Linked DNA regions of Homo sapiens: region 2 is linked to region 1. A link means that fine-mapping ties the variant in region 1 to the expression of a gene that starts in the linked region. Tissue or cell type: whole blood. Region 1 holds a variant in brackets; the other region holds the start of a gene. All regions are shown on one strand. Distances are between the middles of the regions.

Region 1 (2,682 bases):
GTGGCTCACGCCTGTAATCCCAGCACTTTGGGAGGCAGAGGCAGGCGGATCACTAGGTCAAGAGATGGAGTCCATCCTGGCCAACGTGGTGAAACCCTGTCTCTACTAAAAATACAAATATTAGCTGGGCGTGGTGGCGGGCGCCTGTAGTCCCAGCTACTCAGGAGGCTGAGGCAGGAGAATTCCTTGAACCCAGGAGGCGGAGGTTGCAGTGAGCTGAGATCACGCCACTGCACTCCATCCTGGCGACAGAGTGAGACATTGTCTAAAAAAAAAAAAAAAAATTCCTAAACAGGAGGGGCTTAGGGCCAGCCAGTTGGTCACATGAAACAATCAGGGGACTTACCTTAGAGCTGCCTTCGCAGTAGGGAGTCCATGGTTTTTAGTGAGATTTGTGTCGTACAAATTAATTAAAATTGCATAGTTTCTATCAAGTTTTTTTCTTACACTTTCCACAAAATTGGGAAAAATGTCTATTTCCCATTTCTTTATTTCATTTTCTCTTATTGCTTCTATCCTACCTGATATTTCCCATTTCAAAAGCACGTTTTTTTTTTTGAGATGCAGTCTTGCTCTGTCGCCCAGGCTGGAGTGCAGTGGTGCCATCTCGGCTCACTGCAAGCTCCACCTCCCGGGTTCACGCCATGCTCCTGCCTCAGCTTCCCGAGTAGCTGGGACTACAAGCACCTACCACCATTTTTTGTGTTTTTTAGTAGAGACAGGGTTTCACTGTGTTAGCCAGGATGGTCTCTATCTCCTGACCTCGTGATCCACCCCGCCTCGGCCTCCCGAAGTGCTGGGATTACAGGTGTGAGCCACCGCGCCCGGCCCAAAAGCACTTTTTAAATGTTGAGGTGGTTTGAAGGCTAATGGAAATTACGAGGTGGGACTGAAACCATTCCCTGCCATCCCTAAGAAAGCCCACTCCTTGGAACTGCCACTGGTGAAAGTCTCACTCTGTCACCCAGGCCAGAGTGCAGTGGCACAATCTCAGCTCACTGCAACCTCTGCCTCCCAGGTTCAAGCGATCCTCCCACCTCAGCCCCGCAAGTTGCTGGGACTACAGGTGCCCACCACCATGCCTGGCTAATTTTTTTTTTTTTTTTTAAGTAGAGACGGGGTTTCACCGTATTGCCCAGGCTGATCTCAAACTCCTGAGCTCAAGTGATCTGCCTGCCTCAGCCTCCCAAAGTGCTGGGATTACAGGCATGAGCCACCGCGCCCGGCCTGAAAGCATTTTAGAAGGCTCCTGACTGAAAGAACGGGATAAAGTAAGGGGGTATGGGAACAGAAGATGACAGCCTGGTATATCTGGGTGACATGCGTAGGCAGTCTGTTGTAGTGGCAATTGTCAGGGCTCTGGAGTTAGACTGTCTTCTTTCAAATCTTGCAAGCTGTCTGATCTCGGGCGATTTACTTAACCTCTCTGAGAGTTCTGTAAAGTGGAGAATAAGAATACCACCCTACAGATGATGAGGATTCAATGAGATTGGGCTGGATACAAATCAGCTTTTGTTGGCATCAGCTTGAGAGGAGGGATGGACTTGGGAGTGGAGAGGGTGGATTTGGGGGAGAGGA[C/T]GCCACACAGTGGCAGGAACTCGCAGCAGGTGACTGAGAGTGGAAGGCACAAGAGAGCCCAGATGCTGAGCCAGCTCAGAATAGAAACGGTATTGATAGCAGAATGCAAAGCAGTATCACTCGAATGACGGATGTTTAATTGGATTTCTCCAGGGCTGACTCACCGCCTTTGATAGATGCGATTGCCCTCGTGGTGTCTATCATGAGACTTGAAATTTTTCCACCTGCACCTGCAGTCTTTAGGCCTTGTTTCAACAAAATGCAGTACTGTGTGTACCCTCCATGCCTGCCAGCCTTCCTTCCTTCCTTGTGTATTTACTGCAATGTATCAGGGACGGGGTGGTGTGCTAGAACCATGAAGGAAAAAGGCAAAGTCCCTTAAAGGAGGTGCAGTCTGTTGAGGCAGAAACACAAATGCCTAGATGGTTCTGGAATGCCTAGATGTCAATGGGATAACAAGGGGGCTATGGCTGCAGGAAGGAAGAGGACCTGATGTAGCTGAGGGCATCAGGAAGATTCCAGAAGGAGAAGGGATTAGTGAAGCTGCAGAGCACTTAGTTTGAGACAAAGATTTCTGAGCTGAGGGAGGAGTTGGGCAAAGGCTTGAGTGCAGGAGTTCAAGAGAACTCCTTGGGGCCAGGCTTTACACAGGGATGCACATGGGCTGTGTACCAGTCTGTTCTGACACTGCTGTAAAGATACTACCCGAGACTGGGTCATTTATAAAGGAAAGAAGTTTAATTGACTCACAGTTCTGCATGGCTGGGGAGGCCTCAGGAAACTTGCAGTCATGGCAGACGGCGAAGGGAAAGCAAGCACGTCTTACGTGGCGGCAGGAGAGAGACAGCACAAGAGAAAATGAGTGTAGGAAGTGCCACATTTAAAACCAGCAGCTCTCTTGAACTCCTGCACTCAAGCGATCCTCCTGCCTCGGCCTCCCTTAGTTCTGGGATAACAGGCAGGAGCTGCTGTGCCCACCTGGAGCTTAATCTCTGTTCACATCTTTAATTATTCTGGGCCAGCTTAGCCAAAGGCCTTAGGGGTAGGGTTAGGGACACCAAGGGCCAGTCTTCTATCCACTTCACAGCTCGCTGGGCCCTCCAA
Region 2 (2,682 bases), 120 kb before region 1:
GTAGTCTCAGCACTTTGGGAGACCAAGGCGGGCAGATCACTTGAGCTCAGGAGTTCGAGACCAGCCTGGCCAACATGGTGAAACCACATCTCCATTAAAAATACAAAAAATTAGCTGGGCATGGTGGCACGCCTGTAGTCGCAGCTACTCAGGAGCTTGAACCCAGGAGGTGGAGGTTTCAGTGAGCCGAGACTATGCCACTGCACTCCAGCCTGGGTGACAGAGAGAAAAAAACAGTTGTACCAATTTATACTCCCACTAGCATTAGATAAAAGTTCAAATTATGCCAGGCATGGTGTCTCACATCTGTAACCCCAGCATTTTTGGACTCTGTCTCAAAAAAAAAATCCACATCTTTTACAACACATGATTGTTAGATTTTTTAGTTTTTGCCTATCGGATGATATATTCTTATTTACATTTTCATTTTCCTTATTACTAAGGGGGTTGAGCAGCTTCTCACATTAGGCCTTCCTCCTCTGCCCACATGACATGACTATTCATATTCTTTCCCTGTTTCCTACTGGGATATCATTTTCTTTTTTTCGTTTCTTTTCTTTTTTTGAGACGGAGTTTTCCTCTTGTTGCCCAGGCTGGAGTGCAATGGCATGATCTCGGATGACTGAAACCTCTGCCTCCCAGGTTCAAGCGATTCTCCTGCCTCAGCCTCCCGAGTAGCTGGAATTACAGGCCTGCGCCATCACAGCTGGCTAATTTTTGTATTTTCAGTAAAGATGGGGTTTCACCATGTTGGCCAGGCTAGTCTCAAACTCCTGGCCTCAAGTGATCCACCCACCTCGGCCTCCCAAAGTGCTGGGATTACAGGCATGAGCCATCGTGCCCAGGCACTGCCATGGTGTTTTTTGTTTGTTTGTTTGTTTGTTTTTAAAGATAAACCTCTGGGGTTTCTGGAAAGTAAAGCCCCATGCTCCAAACAGCTCTGCTATACCTGTGTGCAAAATATTTTCATCTCTCTCTCTCTCTCCCCAAAGTGCATGCAAACACATATGGAACTGACATAGGCATCCACTGTCGCACTTCAAATTAAACAGACGCACACGACAGATATTCTCACAGAAAAGCAGTCAGCCAAGCCCAGAACCCATAGATCTAGGTCCACACTCACGCCTCTGCATGCTCCCCAGAAAGACGGATGCATCGCCCGCAGGTAGAGACGGGCTCACCAATCCCACTCAAAACCCGCTGCCGGCTTACAGCTCGCAAGCCGCCCACAGTGCCAGCCCCATGCCAAGCATCACTAGGGGCTCTAGAATAGGCAGGGGCCTTGTTCTCACTTCCTTTGTGTTGCTTTTATTTTAGTTGTTTTGTTTGTTGTTTTTCTTAGAGTTATCACCTGCCCCTCTGTCTCCCTACCCAGCCCCCAAGCCTCCCCTCCAAGCCTCCACTGCGCATGTGCCGTGCATCCCTGCCCCTTCTGGGTACCCGTAGGCGCTCCCGGGCGCTGGCGGCGGCGGAGGAGAGGGAGCAGCGTCACGGGCGCCCGGCCCGTTAAAACGCTGCTGGCTGGAGCCACCTCCCTCCCTGCAGCCCGCAACGGGAATGGAGTAAAGGGAGACCCGTCGACCTGGCCACGGGGATCAGCGATGGAATTAAAGCAATCTTTGTCCACCCATCTGGAAGCCGAGAAGCCTCTGAGGCGCTATGGGGCGGTGGAGGAGACGGCTTGGAAAACGGAGAGACTGGGGAGAAGTGAGTACTGGGGCGGGGGGCGGGGGGCCGGGGACAGCTGGGGATCCATGCGCCTGCGCGGGTGGTCGCGGGAGCGCGAGGAACGCCAGCAGTGGACCCAGGGAAGCGCCCCCGCAGCGGGGCTGGCAGCTCAGGGGGATACGCAGCTCTGCGCAGCGACGCGCTCTCCCCGCGAACAAAAGGGGGGGACCCTCCGGGCTGAGCCTCACTGGGAGGGTTGGGAGATGGCCAGGCAGCTAAGGCAGGAGCCTGGGCTCGACTTAGGAGTCCCGGATCCGTCAGCTCGCAGCTGGTCCTGTGAAGTCGGGTCTCTCCCACAGCCCAGGGAGGAGGATCCTCTCTCCGCCTGGGATGCGCCAGGGCGCTGGAGACGCGGGACCGTCCTGGAAAGCGCCCACGTCCCTGGAGAGGGGGGAGTGTCTGCTGGTTTTCCGCTTGCTTTCCTACCCCCTGCGTGAGGTTTCGGAGCGCACCTGAAATTCCCAGCTTTTCCTCCCTCGCCTTCCTTGGGTCGGGGTGGGAGGCTTGGGGCGGCAAAAGGGTCAAAAGGCACACACCGTTCTCTTTTCTCTCTTGACTCAGTTAAAGTCTGCTTGGGCACAACTCTAGAAGGCAGTTTCGAAATAGACCGGCTGTATTTATTTACTGGTTCTCTCTGCGGTGTTTGGATGTCAACATTTCTAAGTAAACGAAGGATTTTGTTTTTCATTAATAGGATACAATAGTTGAAACTCCTGCCCTCAAAGTGTAGAGGCAGCGTCAGGGGCTCCAGGGTCACTGGAGGTCCCTGCAAACCCGGGGGCTCCCCAAAGCCGCTGCTCTCACATGGCTTGCCCACCAGGCTGGGAAGGAGAGGTCCTTCTCAGGGACCCGGCAGCTTCCTGCCTCGGCTCTGGGTCACTGCTCCGCGCTCTGCCCCAGCACGGATCTCTGAGCGATGTAGGGCTAAAGTATTGTGAATGTGATCTTATT

What was found. PIP is the estimated chance that this variant, and not a neighbour inherited with it, causes the effect.
Region 2: it holds the start of BMERB1, and the variant in region 1 is fine-mapped to the expression of BMERB1 in whole blood (TOPMed, PIP above 0.99). The same link has a PIP of 0.9 or more in nasal epithelium.

Annotation. Positions count from the first base shown.
Region 1 is chr16:15,549,410-15,552,091 of GRCh38, forward strand. The region is part of intron 2 of MPV17L-BMERB1 (MPV17L-BMERB1 readthrough); the gene reads left to right. All of the region lies in intron 2 of BMERB1 (bMERB domain containing 1), which reads left to right. Among named protein-coding and RNA genes, the nearest start is that of MIR6506, 60 kb to the right of the region's middle. The variant C/T (reference allele first, on the strand shown) is at 1,579.
Region 2 is chr16:15,433,050-15,435,731 of GRCh38, forward strand. BMERB1 (bMERB domain containing 1) reads left to right here and starts at 1,539. Exons shown (of 6, transcript NM_033201.3): 1 at 1,539-1,710. The coding sequence starts at 1,605. All of the region lies in intron 1 of MPV17L-BMERB1 (MPV17L-BMERB1 readthrough), which reads left to right. RefSeq lists an enhancer at 1,843-2,465.